Linked DNA regions of Homo sapiens: region 2 is linked to region 1. The links come from fine-mapping of genetic effects on gene expression. A gene starts in region 1. The other region holds a variant in brackets. All regions are shown on one strand. Distances are between the middles of the regions.

What was found. PIP is the estimated chance that this variant, and not a neighbour inherited with it, causes the effect.
Region 2: its variant is fine-mapped to the expression of LINC02691 in adrenal gland (GTEx, PIP above 0.99).

What each region holds. Positions count from the first base shown.
Region 1 is chr14:104,221,517-104,226,886 of GRCh38, reverse strand. LINC02691 (long intergenic non-protein coding RNA 2691) reads right to left here and starts at 3,303. Exons shown (of 3, transcript NR_146612.1): 1 at 3,071-3,303. RefSeq lists an enhancer at 3,449-4,341.
Region 2 is chr14:104,240,548-104,245,917 of GRCh38, reverse strand. All of the region lies in intron 1 of LINC02691 (long intergenic non-protein coding RNA 2691), which reads right to left. Among named protein-coding and RNA genes, the nearest start is that of LINC02691, 20 kb to the right of the region's middle. RefSeq lists an enhancer at 5,237-5,370. The variant C/T (reference allele first, on the strand shown) is at 2,154.

The DNA.
Region 1 (5,370 bases):
GGCTATGAGGAACCAGGGACCCTCATCCCATCCCCGGCACCACTAAAACGAAACGTTAGGCTCATCGGAGTTCCTACCACTAAATCAAACACTAATCTGCTCCCCCTAATTTATCTAAGACAATATTAGCCAGACAAAATGAAACATAAATGTGAGTATGAGCCCGGCTATCTGGGAAGTGGGAGCAGGCGGCCTGGGGAAATGGATTTATCGTGTGTTTGCTGAGGCAGGCCAGGCATGCATGCCCGCAGAAGGCTGGTAGCTCCAGCTCGGCCCGGGCTAGCCTCACACAGGCGTCCACCTAAAGGCACATCAGCTTCCTCCCCAGGAAACAGTGTCGGGCACCATTGGAGCTTGAGAAACGGGAAAGTGAACCAGGGTGCCCTGCAGCTGCTGAGAATAATTCACACCAAAAGATTTCTCCAAGTGTTAGCGGACCTAAAATATCAGTGAGAGAGTTGGAAGCAAGCCGTATACCCAGAAGGACCCTGGTGGACATGCTACTTTGGTAAACAACTAATGGGATCCTAGAGTCAGAGGCAGAGGAGTAGCCCCACATAACCCACCAGTGACCATCAGTGACACATCTGTCAGGCTGTCAGGTGTGTGGCATGTGGCTGTCCTGTCTAACTTCCACCACAGCCCAAGGCCACCGGGATTTAACCCAATTCCCAGGTAAGAAAACTGGCTCCAGAGAGTGAAAACCACTTGCCCAAGATCCACGTCAATGAGATCTGAAGCAAGTCACACCCACCTTCACTCAGAGCAGCCCCGGGAGCCACACCTGCCTTCACTCAGAGCAGCCCCAGGGAGCCACACCTGCCTTCACTCTAAGCAGCCCGCGGGAGCCACACCTGCCTTCACTCTGAGCTGCCCCTGGGAGCCACACCCACCTTCACTCTGAGCAGCCCGCGGGAGCCACACCCGCCTTCACTCTGAGCAGCCCTCGGGAGCCACACCTGCCTTCACTCTGAGCTGCCCCTGGGAGCCACACCCACCTTCACTCTGAGCAGCCCGCGGGAGCCACACCTGCCTTCACTCAGAGCAGCCCCAGGGAGCCACACCTGCCTTCACTCTGAGCTGCCCCGGGGAGTCACACCTGCCTTCACTCCGAGCAGCCCCGGGGAGCCACACCTGCCTTCACTCCGAGCAGCCCCAGGGAGCCACACCTGCTTTCACTCAGAGCAGCCCCAGGGAGCCACACCCGCCTTCACTCTGAGCTGCCCCCGGGAGTCACAACCGCCTTCACTCCGAGCAGCCCCGGGGAGTCACAACCGCCTTCACTCTGAGCTGCCCCAGGGAGCCACACCTGCCTTCACTCAGAGCAGCCCCAGGGAGCCACACCTGCCTTCACTCAGAGCAGCCCCGGGGAGTCACACCTGCCTTCACTCAGAGCAGCCCCGGGGAGCCACACCTGCCTTCACTCCGAGCAGCCCCAGGGAGCCACACCTGCTTTCACTCAGAGCAGCCCCAGGGAGCCACACCCACCTTCACTCTGAGCTGCCCCCGGGAGTCACAACCGCCTTCACTCCGAGCAGCCCCGGGGAGTCACAACCGCCTTCACTCTGAGCTGCCCCAGGGAGCCACACCTGCCTTCACTCAGAGCAGCCCCAGGGAGCCACACCTGCCTTCACTCAGAGCAGCCCCAGGGAGCCACACCCACCTTCACTCCGAGCAGCCCCGGGGAGTCACACCCACCTTCACTCTGAGCAGTCTCCAGATCCCAGGAGGAAATGCAGCTGGGGTGATGGTGGGCATCTACCCACCATGGGTCAGCAACGCCCCCTGGGAGGCATCTTCCCTCCATCCCACCAACGACAGCACTGCTCTTAGCCCCACTCTGTTGAGAGTAGGGAGACGTGCCCAAGGTCACAGCAAGGTCAGGCCCTCCCTGACCCAAGCCTTGTGGCCTCTCCTCCACCCAGGCCGAGCCCAGCCGGCGTTCAGCAGCCAGGGACAGGCTTGCGGCCTGGAAACCTCTGGACCAGGCAGGGGCCCACAGCTCCTTCTGCCCCAGGTGTCTGTACAGCCCTGTGGTCACTGCTGCTCTGTCCCCTGCCTGGAAAATGGGCTGAAGCCACATGGATGAGACCACCTGAGGCAGCAGGTGGAGCCGAAGGTCCCTGTCCCTGGAGAGCATGGGGCCCCCGAGCACCCAAGGTCCCGGCCAGATCCAGCCCCTGAGCAGAGGCTGAGTGCTGTGGCATGGATGGGTGGGTCTGAGCCGGGAGCCCCCACTGTGAAGTGGGACTGGGAAGCCCAAACACCAGCAGGGGGCGCTCGGCTCAGATCACTGGCGCTGGCGGAGACACCAAGTCTGTAGACTGGCTCCGAGGTGGCCGGTGGTCTAGGGGACCCCCCACCCACACCCCTCTCTGGTTATCCCAGGGCCACCACAGACTACACGCCACCAGCCTGGCTCCTCCAGAGCAGACATCCAGCTTCTGGCCGCAGACCCCACCCAGATCTGCCTTCCAGCACATTCTGCCCCCTCCCCAGGGCCCTGGAGCAGATTACATCGAACCCCTTGAGCTTCCTGCCAAGGACAAGTGAGGGGCCAGGAGAGGGAAGCCCCATAAATCTCTTTGGAGACATGTGCCAAGATACCAGACACCAAAATCTCATTAGCAGGCTAAACTCTCGGGAGGAAATGGAAAATAAGTACCCGCAGATACAGGCCTGGAAACCGCAGGACCCCGAGCAGGAGACATGGATTAGTGGAGATGATATCCACGGGACAAGCTGTTGCCACAGGGGTTTTGCATGTTTTTTTTGTTTTTGTTTGTTTGTTTTTGCTTTAACTACAGTTTAAGTATAGCAGGACCCTCAGCACACCGGGTAGGTGGGGTTGAGGCCCTTTATTCACAAGAGAGGAGAGGAGGGAGGGCGAGGCCTGGCGGCAGAGGCACAGGGGGCAGGCAGGCAGCCGGGCCCTCCCAGGAGGGCATTCGTTCGGGAGCGTGGCTGCGCTGGGGCCCCGTCCATGCTGCTCAGAGCCCTGGCGCGTAACAGCTCCTTCCACGCAGGGAAAATCCATCCAGGTTTAATGGAAACATTAACCTCAACTCACCCGATTTCCTCCTCGCACTGAGGTCTGAGAACGGGAAGAGGCTCCGAGGCTGGAGCTCCCCAAGGCCTGGCACAGACGCGGGCCCACGGGTCCGGGAACACTCAGCGAGGGCCGGGACAGTGACAGTGGGTGCCTTCATCAGAGCAGAAGCAGCCCCAGGACGCCCCCACCCCTCTCGCCAGCTCAGCCAGCGTGCTCTTCACAGGCTGGACATGACAGACAGGAAGAGGAAAGCCCCTCCCCCAGCACTCAGCTGCTCATGCTCCCTCCGGAGTCTGCGCAAATTACCAAGGAAAGGGGGTGGCCCAGGCAGCTACGCCGTGTCCAAGGTCACCTGGTCCCCCTGGCGCAGTTCCAGGACACCCCAGGCAGGAGGTTGTCAGAGAAAGGAGGAGGCAGCTGGGGTGGGGGCGGGGGCGGCAGGCTGCCTGCAGAGGCGGGAGGGCAGGGTCGGGGAGGGGCTTTGGGGAGAGTAGGAGTCTGGGAGTGGACCACGCCCTCACACCCTGCCCCCTCAGCCATCAGCAGAGTGACCCAGAGCGGGAACTTGGCCAACGGTGAAGGCCACAGCAGGGGCCCAGAGGGGCTTGTACAGGGCACGTGCCGTAGGGTGCACAGCCACCACCCCGCGTGGCAGAGGCCTTAGCAAGAAAACTGAGGGAGTCTGCTGGGGGCCTCCAACAGTGGGGAGTGGGGGAGAAGACGCTGGCCTCCAAGTCCCTGACAGCTCCATCTATACCTCAGCAGGGAGGGGCAGGGTTGGTCCGAGACCAGGGTCAGGGCCCAACCCATTTTGAAGGGTCCGAGAGGCAGCTGCCCTCAAGAGACCTAGCTTGTGGCTTTGGTCTCCTCTGCACCCTTCAGGGCAGCCCTGTGCCATGACCCCGCACTGACCCTGACACAGGAGGCTGTACCCAAGGAGCTGGCACTTGGGGATGGGCCACAAAGCCATAAGAGCCTTCCAAGCAAAGACGCAGAAGGCCAGGAGTGGAGTCCCCGTCTCTTGGGCTGCAGGCCAGCACTCCCTGACCCATGCTGGGTTGAGGACCCCAGGCAGGCCTGAGGGACAGGCTGGCCGCATGTTCCCACCCTCAGGTGCCCCTGTGTGATGGCCTTGGTCACACCACCTACTGTCCCCCACCACATTGAATGACCCGCCCATGGGATCTGTGGTCTAGCAGTTTGAGACTAACTTCGATTTCTTCCTCTCCTTTTGTCCTGCCAGCCCCACCAAGAGGCCTGTGCACAGAGCCCAGGGGAGCCCGAAGCTCCCTGACACCATAGAGACCCCCTAACTGGCACAACGCTCCATGCAGGCAGAGCCAGGCCACAGCCACAGCACCATCAGAAGACGGGAGGCGGCTGTGCCTGGCCCAGGGAGCAGCAGGTGTGCAAGAGAGCAGGTCTTTCACCTGTGCTCCGAGGTGAGCAGGAAGATCTTTCTCCAATTGCCCTAAATGTGGGAGCCTGGTTTTCCATGTCAGAGAACAAACATTCCATCATTTTTATCTTTTCTGTCAGGTCCCAGAGCAGCTGCTTTGCCAGCGTCTCTGTTGGCAGGTGGCTCCATGTGAAGTCATCAGAGCCGGGCTCAGGCCACCCAGATGACGCACAGAGACAACCCCCCAGCAGGTCAGAGGGTGGCGGCCCAAGGTGGCTGCAGAGGACAAAGCGGGGAGGAGGGGCCTGGCCCCCCTCCGCAGGGTGCAGGCTCCCAGCACATCTGGGCGCCAAGGGTCCTGGTACCATGAGGGGTAGAGCAGCTCAAGGGCACCAGGCCAGCCACTGCCCGGAGGCTTCCCCAGCCCACACCCACCAGGGCTGCCCCTCAGCCTGGGGCCTTCCAGACCACCCTCCACCCACAGGGCGGCATCCCCCCTCTTCATGGCGTCTGAACACCTCTCATCTCTTCATAGCATCCGAGACCCTCCGGAACACCTCTCCACATCCACCTACCCGGGCCCCGGCCCTCTGTGCTGTTCTATGCTGCAGGTTTGCCCAGGGGGTGCCCCCACCGCACCCCCTTCTGGGGGCCAAAGGCTCAGGCTACACGCCTGGGGAGCACTGGTGGCCTTTGCCTGGGTCTCGGGTCCCCATGTTCCCCCACCCCAGCTCCTCGCCATGGGCTGACTCCCAGTCTCACTCGTTTCCGCTGCGTAGGAGCAGAGACTTTCAGGAAGGACTCCATAGTCCTTGAGACCACCTCTCTCCCCAGCTGTCAATGCCACCGGGGGTGCCTAAGAGCCCAGGGAGCCTGCATGCCACCCACCACGTGGCCTGGTGGGGAGGCTCTGACCAGC
Region 2 (5,370 bases), 19 kb before region 1:
GCCCTGAGGAAAGAGCTCTGGACCAGAAGTGAGCATGGTTCAGGCTACACACCTTCCACTCAGCAAATAGATGTTGTATAGCAGATGGCTCAGAGTTGAGGGTAAGAGTATGGGGTCTCCACCCAGACACTATCATCTGACTCCCACTTCAGCCTTTGTGAAGGTATCTGACCTTTAAAAATTATTTAAATCCCCTTGCCTTGTTTTCCTCCTTCAGAGAATGAGGATAATAGTTAGAGTCACTCTCAGGCCACTGAGAGACCAGATGGACTTCACTGTTCACAGAGCTCAGGCTATGCCTCGTCAGGATGGTGCTCAGGTGGTTCAGCTGCTGTTATTACTGCCACCCACATTATTGCTGTGTCCCCACTGGCTCTGCCAGGCCATTGAGGCTGGAAAAGGGCGCCAAGTGTCAGTGACCATGATGCATTCTCCATCCTAGGGGGCAGCTAGCCAGGGGAAATGAGGAGGGTCATTGTAGATGGCAGGAAACCCAGAGATCCATCCTGGATCCACCCTGGGGTGGGTGTCACCTGCTCTTCAGAATGCAGTGGAAAACACCAGGTGAGGGAGAAGTCCTCACCTGTCTGTAGCTCGGGCAAGGTTGAGGTATCCCCTTGCTGCATCCCCCTTTCCCTCACACCAGCCTCAGCCTCCTGCTCTGTGTCTTGCCTTGGGTGGCTGGAAGAGGAGCAGGCCAGGCTGTGTCACTGTGAACTGGGAAGCACCCTCTATGGGCAGGGATGGGGTTTCTGTTGACCACCCACTGTCCTGGGCCTGAGCAGTCATCCTGCATGGGAAGGCCGGGGATCTGACCCTGACCTCCCCACTTAGTGGATCGTTCACTTCCCATGCAGGGCAGGGGACAGGTGTCTGCTCACACCTGCTCAGGGAGGGTAACAGGCTCTATCTTGGCACAGAGAGGACCCCAAGAGGCTGGGAGCCCAACAGCACATGCCCCCTCCACAGCCATGCAGTCCCCAGAGCCCACAGTGTCCACTGCCTTGGGAGCCCTCCCCAGCCCATCCTTATCCCTCCAAGCCCCCTTCCCACCCCCGACAGCTCTTCCACCTGCCGCAGCTGCAGGAGAGCAGAAGGGGCACCGACCACCAGGAGCCGCGGGCCCCAGGGCCACAGCATGCTTCTGGCCGGGGCAGGAATTCAGGGTCAGGGGAAAGGACTAATTATGGCTCGAGGATAAAAACGTGAGCCAGGCAGCTGTGTGCATGGAAGGAATGCTCCCCTCAGAGACACGTTTTCCGACTCCTGGACTGCCGAGAATGCACGCTTTGACATTTATGAGGCCCGGGTCCCCCATAAACCCAGATTCCAAAGCGGCGGACAGCTGGTCTGATCCTGGGCATCCAAGGTTGCAGAGCCCTGGGCCCCACGGCCATTTACAATGGGGACATTTGCATTCACTCTGCAGCTGAGGAGCCTTGCTTCTGGACCTGCTGACATTTGCTGAGCAGCTACGGAGCCCAAACTGCAGAATCTGGAGTCACCTTCGCACCGGCAGCAACTTGAGAAGTGCAGGAGATGTGTTCCTTCAGCAGCTGAGGGGACAGAGGCTCCAAGAGGCTGAGAAGCTCCGTCGAGGCCAGGAGCCAGCCGTAACCAGCTGTCTCCCTGCACATAACTGCCCGCTCCAGCAGCACAGGCCCTGGCTGGTTGTTATGCTTTCCAATAAGAATCAAATTGGAAAACAGTTTCCAAATGTCAGCAGTGTTCTTGTTGGGCAGCAGTACTATTGAGAGATGGTTGCTCTTTATTTCCTTTTCTATATTTTCTGCTTTTTCCTGTCCTTACAACAGAAAATAGGAGATGTCTCTGTCCATAAGTAGCAGATTAGTGACTAGGACCAACTCTTCCACTGAACACAACTAGAAAAGCTGGATTAAAATATTTCAATTGGCCAGGCATGGTGGCCCATGCCTATAATCCCAGCACTTTGGGAGGTCAAGGTGGGTGGCTCACTCGTGGCCAGGAGCTCAGGACCAGCCTGGACAATATAGAGAAACCCCGTCTCTACTACCAAAAATACAAAAAAAAAATAATAATAACCTAGCCTAATGTGGTGGCGCACACCTGTGGTCTTAGCTACTTGGGGGGCTGAGGTAGGAGGATCCCTTGAGCCTGAGAGGTGGAGGATG[C/T]AGTGAGCCACGATCAGCCTAGGTGACAGAGTGAGACCCTGTCTCAAAAAAAAAATTTTTTTCCAATCTTCTTTAAAGCAGAAAAGAGCAAATCAGGTAGCAAAGAATGCACTACCAGGCCAAAACCTTGGAGGAGTTGAGAGCCCAGCAAGTACTGCAAAACATAAGCAAGAGTCAGCTGCTTCTGCTTTAAAGAACTTTGCAGCCTCAGGAATGACTGTTGCACCCATCAGCCCCCTCAATGGCAGGTGAGGGAGAACCAGCAAGGCTCAGAGGACTCTTAAGAGCCAGCCATGGGCATCTTTTTCCAATCCCACACTCAGTGATGTTGTGTTGGTAACTTGAAGTCAGCCATGGCAGGAGTGTTTACACCATGGGAATTGGCAGGTGCTACAGATCAAAACTGTTTTTTTTTATGAAGAGCCAGTTATTAATTATTTATCAGCATGGCATTAGGGACAACAGAGTCAAAGCCCAGAGTTGGTAAGAGAGAGGAATCCGACAAGGCCCCAACTCTAAGCCTGAAGGCCATGGGTGAGTCAGAAGTAAATCAGTCCTTGTGTGGGCCTGCCATTTGTGATGGTGACTTCAGAGGTCCTGCTCCAGGAAATCTCAAGGCTTAAACTTCGTGTAAAATACTTCCAGACAGGTAGTGCCCCACTAGGCACCTGCAAAAAGCAAACCAACACCATCCTTAAAGAAAGGTACTATTGGCCAGGTGCCGTGGCTCATGCCTGTAATCCCAGGACTTTGGTATACTTGAGGTCAGGAGTTGGAGACCAGCCTGGCCAACATGGTGAAACTCTGCCTCTACTAAAAATACAAAAATTAGCCGGGTATGGTGGCACATGCCTGTAATCCCAGCTACTCAGGAGGCTGAGGCAGGAGAATCGCTTGAACCCGGGAGGTGGAGGTTACAGTTAGCTGAGCTCACACCACTACACTCCAGCCTGGGCAACAAAGTGAAACTCATCAAGAAAAGAAAAGAAAAGAAGAGGGGAGGGGAGGGGAGGGGAGGGGAGCAGAGGGGAGGGGAGGGGAGGGGAGAGGAGAGGAGGGGAGAGGAGAGGAGAGGAGGGGAGGGGACAGAAGAGGAGAGGGGAGGAGAGGAGAGGAGAGGAGAGGAGGGGACAGGAGAGGAGAGGAGAGGAGAGGAGAGGAAAGGAGAGGAACTATCATCCTAAGGCTCAAATTATTCTTACAAGCAATTTTTCAATACAATCTCTAGCACACAAAGATAACCACACACAAAATGAAATTAAATTCACAATCAAGAGCCAGCAAAAACAAAAGACAATAGAAACAGATGCACAAAGACTTCAGGTTTTGGAATTATAAGCAGAAGATCAGATCACATCAAATAACGATGCTTGCTAAGTTTAAAAGATTCAAAAATTCAAACATATCACAGGAGACTGAAAACTATAAAACATGTCAGAGAAGATTTGGAAAAGAACCAAATAAAAATATTTAAAACTGAAAATTAACCAAAAATTAGAACTCAATGCCTAAGTTGTTTTTTTTTTTGTTGTTGTTGTTGTTTGAGACAGAGTCTGGCTCTGTCGCCCAAGCTGGAGTGCAGTGGCGCGATCTCAGCTCACTGCAAGCTCCGCCTCCCGGGTTCGCGCCATTCTCCTGCCTCAGCCTCCCGAGTAGCTGGGACTACAGGCACCCGCCACCACGCCCGGCTAATTTTTTTTTTTTTTTTTTTTTTTTTTTTTTTTTAGTAGAGACGGGGTTTCACCGTGTTGGCCAGGATGGTCTTGATCTCCTGACCTCATGATCCGCCCGCCTCAGCCTCCCAAAGTGCTGGGATTACAGGTGTGAGCCACCATGCCCGGCCAATGCATAAGTTTTAACAGCAGATTTTATACAGCTAAAGAAAGATGAATAAACTAGAAAACCAATCTAAAGACAGTGTCCAAAATGCAACAGGAGACAAAACCAACCAAACAAACAAACAAAAACAGGAAAAACAAATTCAAATTGTATTTCTACATCAACAAACAAGTAAAAAAATGTAATTTAAAAGCATCAAAGAATATTGGGCATCTAGGAATATATCTAACAAATTTATCTGAGACTAAAAATTGTATTGACAGAAATAAGGAACACCAAATAACAAGATAAAACATGCTCCTGTATTGGAAGATACAACCTGTGAAGATGCCAGTTCTTCCTGAATTGCTTTGGTTCAATAATATTCCACCCAAAACCCCAACAGCACTTGGTTCTGTGTCTATGGGAAGCTTAACAAACTGACTGTATAATGTGAATAGTAGCATAAAGAGCCTAGAGCTGCCCGGATACCCTCAAGGAAGAATTTTTTTTTTTTTTGTAAACCTATAACTGCTCAAAAAATAGTCTTTTTTTCTTTTCTTTTTTTTTTTTTTTTTTTTTTGAGATGGAGTCTCACTCTGTCACCCAGGCTGGAGTGCAGTGGCGCAATCTTGGCTCACTGCAACCTCCACCTCCCAGGTTCAAGCTATTCTCCTGCCTCAGCCTCCCAAGTAGCTGGGATTACAGGCATGTGCCACTATGCCCAGCTAATTTTTGTTTTGTTTTTAGTAGAGATTGGGTTTCGCCATGTTGGCCAGGCTGGTCTTGAACTCCTGACCCCAGGTGATCTGCCCAGCTTGGTGTCTCAAAGTGCTGAGATTACAGGCGTGAGCCACCGCGTCCAGACTAAAAAAATAGTCTATTAATTAGAAACAATAACAGATTGGCATTATCTAAAAGGGTTGAAGAGGCGCACATCTCATGACCTGGCAATTCCACTCCTGGGGAGGGACCCTAGGACAAGTGGGCACATGGGCGAGAGTGTTCACAGTAGCATGGGCCACTCAGCCAATTCAGATACCACCCAAGTGTTCATCAACAGCAGAATGGATGAGAAGCCTGTTGTATGTTCGCATGATGGAACATGGTGGAGCCATGGAAGCCAACGGACTATAGCTAGAGAAACCAAGAACTCAACACACTGAGATTATTTCACACCCCTATACAGGAAGATGCAATGTTATCAAGGTTGGCTGCACATCAGACAAAACAGCAGGTGAAAGAAACAAGGAACAAAGCAATCACCTAGCTTTATTCTATTTACATAAACCCCCACCCTGGCCCCGACGGGGAAAGCCACACCAGCTTGTTTAGGGTTGCTAGGACAGAAGTGTTGCCCATATAAGGAGGAGGCAAGAGTGACCGCAGGTGCAGGGGC